Homo sapiens: one gene and its partner. The protein of the gene in region 1 interacts with the protein of each later gene in a pairwise test. Each region holds a gene or a part of one and is shown on either strand. Other genes may lie near its edges. The genes, in order: CZIB and CCS.

Region 1 (8,271 bases):
CCTACATTCAGTCTCATCCTGTCATTCACTGTAAAGTAATTTCCTGCACACTGACCACATCTCTGGCACTGGTAAGGCACTTCTCTGTTAGGGCCCTAGTTCGATTCTTGTTTTTTGTATTTTCCACTAGATTATTATGTACGTGAAGGCGAGTCCTCATTTAATTTCTCTTTAACTTCAGGACAAAGCCAAGAATTTGGCACAACTCAAGATACTTTAAATAAATACCAAATAAGGAATAGGTGAATACATATAACTGGCTTTCTTTAAACAAACAGATCCAAAGCACACCCTCCCTCACCTTTGGGCTAACTTGTTAACACTGATGATATAAAGGATGGGATGCACCAAACGACTACCCCACCCATGGTTTCAGAGAAAGCTTGCTAGTCCCCTAAAATGAAGACAAGGCAAGTGCTCTCAGTGATGCAAACTGAACAGCTAGGTTGTGTCAGAGGTCCCCTGAGCTCTCACAGCCCAGCCCTCATAAGAAGGCACTGCAAGAGGCAATATACCAAGCACTCAGTGTACAGTGGATAAATGACTGAGTCAAAGAAGAACTAAGTTCATGAGTGAATGTCCTATGGCAGGTCACTCTGATGCAGGCATGACTCTAGAACCCAGACCTACTAACTCCAGTTAGGATTTAAGCCCACCATCCCTGCCACTACAGCAGCAAACTTACATTGTAAGGCTTGATGGTGCTGCTTAAAATCTCTGAAATAGAAAAGAGAACACAAAGTTGACTTGAGTCCATACCCTCGCCCCAGCCAGGTGCCCACATGTGGCCCTGAAAAAGATCACGCTGTACAGGTGTCGGCATCTTAGGCCTGACTCCACCCTCAGGTAACATGAGTCTACTTTCAGCCTGGTGCCAGGAAGCTGTGGGCCACCCTGGCAGAACTCAGTACGCACAGCCTGACCTACCGATGGAATTTTCTCTTGCACACAGCTTGCACTTCTGGACCATGGAAGCACTGCCACGGCCCCCCTTCAGTGCCACACTGTCCTGGCAAAAAGCAAACAGAACTTTCAGTCACATATGAATTAGATGTACAGTCCTGAGGAGATCGAGCCCACCATTTATTGTCCACTTAAAGAGACCAAGACCCAGAAAGGGTAACTTACTAGGACAAGACTCCTGGGAAGGCTTCCTGAGGAAAATAAAAAAAGGGCTTCCCCTTGATTTTGAACTCTGCCTCATACCTCAAAGATGCCTATTGAATCCAGTGCTGATCACACTGACACCTACCCTCCCAAACCACAAAAAGCAGGGAGCAAAGAACTGGAGAGATGAAGGCCAGTTTCCCCAAATCCCTGCCCAGAAGTGTATGTGTGTTTGTGAGTGTTTATGTTGGGGGTTGGGCGGGGAACAGTTACCATCAGCCGGATGTACTGCCACTTGTCCGAAATCTCACCACAGTTGCCACATTTCATCTTTGGGGAAAAAGAATGTTAGTAAAGCAGCTGGCTCTGCTGCACAGACACCAAGGAAAGGGTAAGAACAGTGGGAGGTGGGCAGGCTCATGATCTACCTTCTTGATGGCAATCTCACTTCATCCCTAACACCTGCCCCAACAAGGACAAAACTAGAACTATCTCTGGGCAAAGGATAGGTAAGGCTGTTTCCTATGCCGGCGTGCCCACCCTCCTCTATGAAGTGCTCAGTGTGGCCGGGGATTCAAGGCACCTGTGGTGCAGAAATGGTTTCAGCGGAGGTGAGGGGGGGGAATATGGAGAGATTTGTTAGAAGATACAAAATTACAGCTATATGGGAGGAATAAGTTCTAGTGTTCTATAGCACTGTAGGATGACTATAGCTGACAATAATATATAGTTTCAAATAGCTAGGATATTAAATGCTCCCAACACAAAGAAATGATACACGTTTGAGGTGAATATGCTAACTACCTTGATCTGATCACAATACATTACATTTATCGGAACATCACTATATACCCCATAAATATGTACAATTCTGTGTCAATTAAGAAAAAAAAAGAGAAATGGCCTCAGCAGGCCCCCGACCCACTCTGCTTGGTTAGCTTTATGTTCCCACAGGCCCTGTATGTCACTGGTATAAGCACTTATCACTCTATTGTTACTCTATTTTTCTGTCTCCTTCACTCGATTCCGCTTCTTCAAGCCAAAGAACAGATTCTCCCAAGTAAGCCCTGGTATTCAGGCTTCAAAATCCTGGGAAACAAAAGTAGTCCGGAGGCAGCTTCCCGAAAAACAGGGCTTTTGAGAGGTACAGAAGGATGCTGGGATTTTTGACCAGGAGTAAAACAGAGCAGAAGCTCTGGGATCTGGAAGAGTGAAGAGCCTCGAACTGCTGGGGAAGGGGAGGCCTCTGTAGACCATGCCACTAGGGTACCAGCTTTACCAGTGTGGGAGGGCTAAGGAAGGGTGGATTACGCACAAAATTAAACTATTTCACAATAAAGAAAACCAAATCAATAAACGAAAGGCGAACTATTCACCTTATTAAATAATCACAAGCGTCCCTTCAAGTAGCATTTCGTTTAGTGTCCATTTACAGACCACGAAATATTTAACACAGGGAAGAACTACAAAATGAAGCTTTCCAAGACTGCCAATTAGAGATAAACCAATACACTTTAATAGAAAGCAAACGTAAAATTCTAACTAGGAAAACCCCGAACACTTAATGTGCCTGGTTAAATATTTTCTCATACTGCCGGAGAGAAGGCTCCGGTTCAGCACTGAGATCAGGACGGGCCTCCTCTCCCCGGGCCCCGCCCCGGCCGCACCTTCAGGTACCACCGGAAGTCCTCGCCCACGGGCCGGAGGTTGGTGATGTTCTCCAGCGTGGCTTTGAGTTGCAGCGCGATTTTCTGAGGGGGAGGGCCAGAGCGACTGCGTCAGCCGTGCCTGCGCAGCCCCACGCCTGCCCGACCCTCCCGCATTCCCAGCCGTGGGTGCCACAGGGAGACACTCCTTCTGCCTCCTGCTCCTTCAGCGCGCACCCACTCGCTTCATCTCCTCCTGGCGCGAGCTGTTGCCTCCCAGACCCTCGCCACCTCCCCTCCGTGTCCCCGCGGCGGGCGGCCTCCCCTCACCCCCATGGTAGCCCTCTCCGCCCGGTGCTGGCTGCGGCCCTTGCCGTTGCTTTCCGGCGCGTCGTAAAAGGCGGGTGCCGTCTGCGCACCCTCAGTAGGGCGGGGCCGGGGCCGGGCCGCGGGGCAGGGACTTCTGCGCGCCGCTGCTCGCCTGGCCCACTGGGCTTTTCGCATCTGGGGATCTGGGGCCAGTGGAGGTCAGCCAGGTCCGCGAGCAACCTGTGCTCAGGCCAGCGGAAGCCTGACTCCAGGATTCGGTGGTGCCACAGACAGTTACTGAACGCCAATTTTGTGCCTGCTTTAAGCGAACAGGACAGTTCCTGACCCTCAGTTCTTTCCAGGCTCTTCACTACTCTGCCTGCCCTGGAACTTCTCAGATCACGTCAGCTCCCTCTGCCCAGGGGAAAAGCTACAAAAGGAAGAGTTCCAAGACTGCCAAATAAAGATAAACCAATACGCTTTAAAAAGTAGAATGTATTGGTTTATCAGATTTGGGGATGATGCCTTTCTTCAAACTGCCCTTTCCTGTTTCACCCAAGAGACCTGGTTTCTAGGCCCTTCTCCAGAGTTTGCCCTGTGTCCACATCCTTCTCACTGTGGTCCTTGCGACTGGACATTCCCCTTCAGCTGGCTCTTTTTTGGGAGCCCACCTGGCTTATCCTTCTCTCATAACGTTTATTGAACTTTATTTTACCTGGCCTCCTGTCCAGGCTACATCTGAGACCATGCAGGAGCTGTGGAGATTAACGGTAAAAGGAACAGCACATTCAAGACTCTTCTAGGAGGTGGGGCAAGATAGCCAAATAGAACCCTCCAGTGATCCTCCTCCTCCTCTTCCCTGGCAGGAACACCAAACTGAACAACTATCCACACAAGAAAGCACCTTCATGAGAACCAAAACTCAGGTAGCAATCACAGTAGCTGGTTGTAACGTCACATCAAGATATAAGGCAATGGCTGGGTGCGGTGGCTCACACCTGTAATCCCAGTGCTTTGGGAGGCTGAGGCGGGCAGACCACCTGAGGTCAGGAGTTTGAGACCTAGCTGGCCAACATAGTGAAACCCTGTCTCTACTAAAAATACAAAAATCAGCCGAGTATGGCAGTGCACACCTGTAGTCCCAGCTACTCCGGAGGCTAAGGCAGGAGAATTGTTTGAACCCGGGAGGTGGAGGTTGTAGTGAGCTGAGATCATGCCATTGCACTCTAGCCTGGGTGACAGAGTGAGACTCTATCTCATAAAAGAAGAAAAAAAAAGGAACAAGGCAATGAAGAGGGTAGGAAAGACAGTCTTGAATTGCTACCACCACCCCTCCCTCATCCTCTGGCAGCACCTGGCTGCCTGGCATAGAGAGAGAATCTGTGTGCTTATGGGACTTTGCATTGGAACTGAGTTTTGCCCTGTCACAGTGGAAAGCAACTCAGGGCAGAATTCAGCTAGTGCCCACAGAGGAAGCACTTAGAGAAACCCTAGCCAGAGGGGAATCATCCATCCCAGTGGTCAGGTTCTGGCGAGCCCCACCACCACTGGCTAAAGTGCTTCAGGGTCCTAAATAAATTCGAAAGGCAGTCTAGGCCACAAAGACTGCAATTCCTGGGCAAGTCCTGGTGCTGTGCTGAGCTCAGAGCCCGTGGACTTGGGGTGCACACAGCCTAGTGAGATACCAGTTGGGGAGCCAAAGGAGTGTTTATGTCACCAGTCCCCCAACCCCAGGCAGCACAGCTCACGGCTCCAGGAGAGACTCCTTTCCCTTAGAGGAAAGGAGAGGGGAAAGTAAAGAGGACTTTGTCTTACAGCTTGGATACCATCCCAGCCACAGTAGAATAAAACACCACGCAGAGTCCCGAAGCCCCCTTGCCAGGCTCTATCTCCCAGATATTTCTAGAGCTACCATGGGCCAGAAGGGAACCCGCTGCTTTGAAGGAAAGGACCCAGTCCTGGCAGGATTCATCACCTGCTGACTAAAGAGCTGTTGGGCCTTGAATAAACATTTGTAATAGCCACAGTACTGGGTGAGGCCCAGTACTGTGCTGCCTTCAGGTGTGACCCAGTGCCTTCCCAGTAATGGTTGCCACAGGGAGAGACTCCTTCTGCTTAAGGAAAAGAGAGGAAAGAGTTAAAAAGGAGTTGGTCTTGCAACTTGGGTACCAGCTCAGCCACAGTAAAATAAAGCACCAAGTAGGTTTCTAAAGCCCGGACTCCATGCCCTAGCTCCTGGACAGCATTTCTAAACCCACCCTGGGCCAGAAGGGAACCTGCCACCCCAAAGGGTAAGACACAAGCCTGGCTGGATTCACCACCTGCTGACTAAAGAGCCTTTGGGCTTTGAATAAACATCAGCAATAACCAGGCAATAGTCACCATGGGCCTTGGGCAAGACCCACTACTGTGCTGGCTTCAGGTTTGACACAGCACAGTTCCAGCAGTGGTGGCCACAGGGGTGCTTGTGTCACTCCTCTCCCAACTCCAGGCAGCTCAGCATGGAGAGAGAGACTCCATTTATTTGGGAGAAAGTAAGGGAAGATAACAAGAGACTCTGCCTGGTAATCCAGGGAATTCTCTCGGATCTTACCCAAGACCATCAAGGCAGTACCTCTGAGTCTACAAGAGTCACAGCATCGCTGGGTTTGGGGTGCCCCCTAATGCAGTTACAGCTGCAGTGACCAAATATTTACATCACAACACTCATTTCCCTTTGAGTACTTGGAAAAGCCTTCTGAAGAAGGATGAGTACAAATAAGCCCAAACTGTGAAAATTATGATAAATACCTAATTATTCAATGCTCTGCATTGACCAACAGTCACAAACATCAATACCATCCAAGAAAACATGACCTAATCAAATGAACTAAATAAGGCACCAGTGACCAATCCCAGAGTGACAGAGATATGTGACCTTTCAGAGAATTCACTGTCACTGAGAAAGCTCAGTGAAATTCAAGATAGCACAGAGAAGGAACTCAGAATCCTGCCAGATAAACTTAACAAAGAGATGGAAAAAGGAACTCAGAATCCTGCCAGATAAATTTGACAAAGAGATGGAAATAATTTTAAAAATTAAATAGAAATTCTGGAGCTGATAAATTCAACTGATACACCAAAGAATGCACCAGGGTCTCTAAACATGAGAACTGATCAAGCAGAAGAAAGAATTAGTGAGCTTGAAGGCAGGCTGTTTGAAAATACACAGAAGAATTGAAAGAAAAAATAACAAAAAAGGATGAAGTATGCCTACAATATCTAGACAATGGCCACAAATGGGCAAATCTAAGAGTTATTGGCCTTAAAGAGAAGGTAGAGAGAAATTAGGATAGAAAGTTTATTCAAAGGAAGAATAACGGAACTTTCCAAACCTAGAGAAATATATAAATATTCAAGTACAAGAAAGTTATAGAATACCAAGCAGATTTAACCCAAATAAGACTACCTCATGTCATTTAATAATCAGACTCCCAAAGATCAAAGATAAAGAAAGGATCCTAAAAGCAGCAAGAAAAAAGAAACAAATAACACACAAAGAAGCTCCAATGGGTCTGGCAGCAGGCTTCTCTGTGGAAAGCTTACAGGCCAGGAGAGTGGCATGACATTTAAAGTACTGAAGAAAAAAAACATTTATCCTAGAATAGTATATCCAGCAAAAATGTCCTTTAAACATGAAGGAAAAATAAAGATTTCCTAGACAAACAAAAGCTGAGGGATTTTGTCAACACACCAGACCTTTCCTTCAAGAAATGCTAAAGAGTGTTTTTCAGTCTGAAAGAAAAGGATGTTAAGCAATGAGAAATCGTCTGACGGCACAAAACTCATTGGGAATGGTAACTACACAGACAAATGCAAAAGATTTTAACACTAATTGTGTGTAAACTACTCATATATTGAGTAGCAAGACTAAAAGATGAACCTATCAAAAATAATAACTTTTCAAAACATAGACAGTATAAGATATAAATAGGGGCCAGGCACGGTGGCTTATGCCCATAATCCCAGCACTTTGGGAGGCCGAGGCAGGTGGATCGCTTGAGCTCAGGAGTTCAGGGGCAACATGGTGAAACCACATCTCTACTAAAAATACAAAAAATTAGCCAGGCATGGTGGCATATGCCTATGGTCCCAGCTTTTCGGGAGCCTGAGATGGGAGGATCGCTTGAGCCTGGGAGGCGGAGGTTGCAATCAGCCAAGATCACACCACTAAACTCCAGCCTGGGTGACAGGGCAAGACCCTGTCTCAAAAAAAAAAAAAAAAAAAAATATATATATATATATAGATAGATAGACAGACAGACAGACAGACAGACAGACAGATAGGCTGGGCACAGTGGCTCACACCTGTAATTCTAGCACTTTGGGAGGCTGAGGTAGGACGACGGCTTCAGCACAGGAGTTTGAGACCAGCCAAACCCTGTTTTTTTCTTTTGTTTTTTTTTTTTTTTTTTGAGATGGAGTTTCATTCTTGTTGCCCAGGCTGGAGTGCAATGGCATGATCTCGGCTCACCGCAACCTCTGCCTCCCAGATTCAAGTGATTCTCCTGTCTCAGCCTCTCGAGTAGCTGAGATTACAGGCATGCACCACCATGCCAGGCTAATTTTGTATTTTTAGTAGAGATGGGGTTTCTCCATGTTGGTCAGGCTGGTCTCAAACTCCTGACCTCAGGTGATCCGCCTGCCTCGGCCTCCCAAAGTGCTGGGATTACAGGCGTGAGCCACCATGCCCGGTCTCTTTTTATTTTTTATTTTTTGAGATGGAGTTTTGCTTTTGTCGCCCAGGCTTGAGTGCAGTGGCGAAATCTCGGCTCACGGCAACCTCCAACTCCTGGGTTCGAGCGATTCTCCTGCCTCCGCCTCTCGAGTAGTTGGGATTACAGGCGTGCGCCACCACAGTCGACTAATTTTTTATTTTTAGTACAGATGAGGTTTCACCAGGTTGGCCAGGATGGTCTCGAACTCCTGACCTCAGGTGATCCACCCACCTCAGACTCCCAAAGTACTGGGATTACAGGGTGAGCCATTGCACCCGGCCAAGAATACTTTACTAAAGTTTTTTTTGCCTCAGAAAACAAAAGACTCTTTTATCACCTGAGGTCCCGTCACTTCTTTAAAGTTTAGAGTGACTTTTTTTGATGTCTACTTTACTACCAACTTGCTTCATTGCCCCAAGTACTCTTATAGGGGGAGGTGCACTGGAGTCAGG
Region 2 (3,621 bases), on another chromosome or scaffold:
AGCCTGGTTGTCCCTTGCACATCTCCTAACTGATCTCTAAGCTCCCTTCTGTTCTCTCCTCACCCTGCTCCAGTCTTTACTTTTCATAGACTGCACTAGAAGGATTGTTCTGAAGCCTGGAGTAACCAGGCCATGCCCCTGCCTGAAACTTGTCTTGGCTCCCAGTGCCTGAGAGTACAAGCTGGGCCTAGCTTCTTGATGTGGACATTCAATACCCCACTCCCCCTGCCTATTGCCCCTGCCTGTGTGCTGAGGAAACAGCCTGGAAAGGCTGCCTTTCCCTGAACTCCTGCTGGGTCATGCCTCCAGCCACACTGTCCAGGCTGCCCCCTGCCTTGAGGCCGCTCCTCCAGCCGGGCACAGTGGCTCACGCCTGCAACCCTAGCACTTTGGGAGGCCGAGGCAGACGGATCACTTGAGTTCAGGAGTTCGAGACCAGGCTGGCCAATATGGTGAAACCCTGTCTCTACTAAAAATACAAAAATTAGGCCAGGTGCAATGGCTCATGCCTGTAATCCCAGCACTTTGGGAGGCTGAGGCGGATGGGTCACTTGAGGTCAGGAGTTTGAGATCAGCTTGACCAACATGGTGAAACCCTGTCTCTATTAAAAATACAAAAGTTGGGCCGGGCACAGTGGCTCATGCCTGTAATCCCAGCACTTTGGGAGGCCGAGGCGGGCAGATCACAAGGTCAGGAGATCGAGACCATCCTGGTTAACATTGTGAAACCCCGTCTCTACTAAAAATACAAAAAATTAGCCAGGCGTGGTGGCGGGCGCCTGTAGTCCCAGCTACTTGGGAGGTTGAGGCAGGAGAATAGCGTGAACCTGGGAGGCGGAGCTTGCAGTGAGCCGAGGTCGCGCCACTGCACTCCAGCCTGGGCGACAGAGCAAGACTCCATCTCAACAAAACAAAACAAAACAAAACAAAACAAAAGTTGGCCAGGTATGGTGGCGTGCTCTGTAGTCACAGCTACTCGGGAAGCTGAGACAGGAGAATTGCTTGAACCTGGGGGGTGGGGAGGTTGCAGTGAGCCCAGATCGCACCACTGCACTCCAGCCTGGGCAACAGAGTGAGACTCTGTCTCAATAAATAAATAAATAAATAAATAAATTAATTAATTAAAAGAAATACAAAAACTAGCCAGGCGTAGTGGCGCGTGCCTGTAATCTCAGCTACTTAGGAGGCTGAGGCAGGAGAATTGCTTGAACCCGGGAAGCAGAGACTGCAGTGAGCCGAGATCACACCATTGCATTCCAGCCTGGGCATTGCAATGAGACTTTGTATCAAAACAAAACAAAACAAGCAAAAAAAACCGCTCTTCAGGGCTCTGTATCCCCTCCCCCTTCTTGATCTTTCTACTGTTCAAATCTCCAACGCAGGGCGTAAAAAAAAGTACCAGGTGCAGGCAGCAGATATCCCTCTGGAAAACGAGATAAAGCAGAACTGCCACTTCTTCCTGCCCATCAGTTGGTGGCACAGTGAGATGCCTGGTTACTCAGCAGCAAGGTCATGGGAGCCCACCTGTACTGGCACAGGCACTTGTTTCTGCCCAAAATGTCAGGTTGGGGACAATTTATTTGCACAGATGTGGGTTTCTGTGGCTCACTAGTAAGGCCTTGTCACCCCAAAACACACCAACTGTTGTATTCACCCTGTGTGTCATCACCCCTAGTCTGTTCTGTATCTGGGCCCCCACCATGTTCTGAGTCCCTTGAGGATGGTGACCTGCATACTCCCTGCCATGTTGGGTAGTGTGTCTGACCTAGGAGGTGCTCATAGGTGTGTTATGACAATTTTTATTACCGTCAAAGGAGAAGGAGGGCAGAGCCAGCTTCGAGGGGCTAGGACAGGCCCTTTGCCCCTTGCATTTCCTTCTGTTCCTGGAATCTGGGAGTCAGGGAAATGACACTGGCTGCCTATGATGGTCAGGGAAGCCAAGCTTGGCCAACTTAAGCCTATAGGAATTGAAGACAGCCAAGGGCTCACAGAGCCATCAGGAGGCTGCACAACTGAGCTAACTGGAGGCTGAGAAGCAGAGCTGGGCAATTGCCTCGCCGGAAAAACAGTCTGATCCAATGGGAATGACTGCACAGGCAGGGGAAACTTCCACTGGCTCTTTTCAGCCCACTGTCATCCTGCCCAGGATTTCAGTTCCAGGGAGGGAGTGTTCAGATGGTCCGGGACTTCCTGGACCACTTTCCACTTCCAGACAGGGCCAAGAGGACCTTGCCTGCCCAGTCCTTGGGGAGCTCAGATCCTACGAGACTGGTACCCACAGGAGGAAATGGGTACTTTAGGGAAGCAGGAAGAGGCGTCGGAATCAGGAAATCAGAAGATAGCAGCTTGGCACCACGTGGCACACATCCCCTATACACACACTGGATCTCATTCCAGCACCGCGGAGACCTGGGCAATGTCCGTGCTGATGCTGACGGCCGCGCCATCTTCAGAATGGAGGATGAGCAGCTGAAGGTAAGGTGGAAAAGAAGGTGGGCACCCTTCCTAACAGGGTCCATCATCTGAAGCTGTCGTCTCCCCTCAAAGGTGTGGGATGTGATTGGCCGCAGCCTGATTATTGATGAGGGAGAAGATGACCTGGGCCGGGGAGGCCATCCCTTATCCAAGATCACAGGGAACTCCGGGGAGAGGTGAGTGGTGTCGGCCCCTGTAGGAGGCTGTGCTCTGCGGATGGTGCATGAGGAACCCAGGGGTGGGGGCCAAACAGGTACCCACCCCTGACCACACATTCTTCTGCAGGTTGGCCTGTGGCATCATTGCACGCTCCGCTGGCCTTTTCCAGAACCCCAAGCAGATCTGCTCTTGCGATGGCCTCACCATCTGGGAGGAGCGAGGCCGGCCCATCGCTGGCAAGGGCCGAAAGGAGTCAGCGCAGCCCCCTGCCCACCTTTGAGCAGGACCTCACCTTGGCTCTGTTGCTGTCCTCCAGGGCGAGCACTTTCCACTTCCAGAGGGGGCCAGAGGGACTTTGCCTGCCCAGTCTTTGGAGAGCTCAGTACAGGGCAGGAGCTGCTGTGGTGTTCCCTTGGCAAATGAAAGTTTTATTTTCGTTTGGGACTTGGTGTTTTGTGCTTGTCTCCATGCCCCTTATGGGCTTGGTGAACATAGCTCTGCTTCTTTCCTTTGTATCAGGGCCACCCCTTAGCATTGGAGCCAAACAAACCTGAATTCAAACCTACACACACACTGAAGTCCCCATCTTCCTCCTTGGAGCCATAATGAAGAGCCACTACAGTCAAATTTCTGTTTGTGGCCTCCCCCAACCCCTCACTATGGCTGATTGGAACCAAAATGGACACCTGACCCATGGTGGCCCATGCTTTCCCTGAGAAATCAGGGCAGATCCAGCTTTAGTTTTTTCCTGTGGTTGGACCCATAACATGGGAATATGGGAAGTTTTGGTGGCCCTCTTCTCCCTGCCTTATTGACTGAGCATCAGAAAAAGCCAGTCGGCTAAGGAGGAAAAATGAGGCAGGGAGAATCTAAGAGTTGCTGGAGAATCCCAGTCACTCTGGAGTCCCCTCTCTGAGCCTTTCGTGAGGCCAGCTGCCTCCTGCCTGGGATTGAAGAGATGCTCCCGAATCCTCCTAATGCATCCCC

What was found.
Region 2: the proteins of CZIB (region 1) and CCS interact in binary tests that used the Homo sapiens proteins (3 or more experiments, as listed by UniProt).

The regions. Positions count from the first base shown.
Region 1 is NC_000001.11:53,217,487-53,225,757, forward strand, and holds the start of CZIB (CXXC motif containing zinc binding protein), read right to left. Parts: upstream 3,149-8,271; 5' UTR 3,090-3,148; coding exon 3,084-3,089; exon of another isoform or gene 2,874-3,083; intron 2,859-2,873; coding exon 2,775-2,858; exon of another isoform or gene 2,315-2,774; intron 1,438-2,314; coding exon 1,381-1,437; intron 1,010-1,380; coding exon 928-1,009; intron 718-927; coding exon 686-717; intron 1-685.
Region 2 is NC_000011.10:66,602,942-66,606,562, forward strand, and holds the end of CCS (copper chaperone for superoxide dismutase), read left to right. Parts: intron 1-2,397; coding exon 2,398-2,475; intron 2,476-2,547; coding exon 2,548-2,651; intron 2,652-2,760; coding exon 2,761-2,914; 3' UTR 2,915-3,078; downstream 3,079-3,621. UniProt on the Homo sapiens protein: Delivers copper to copper zinc superoxide dismutase (SOD1).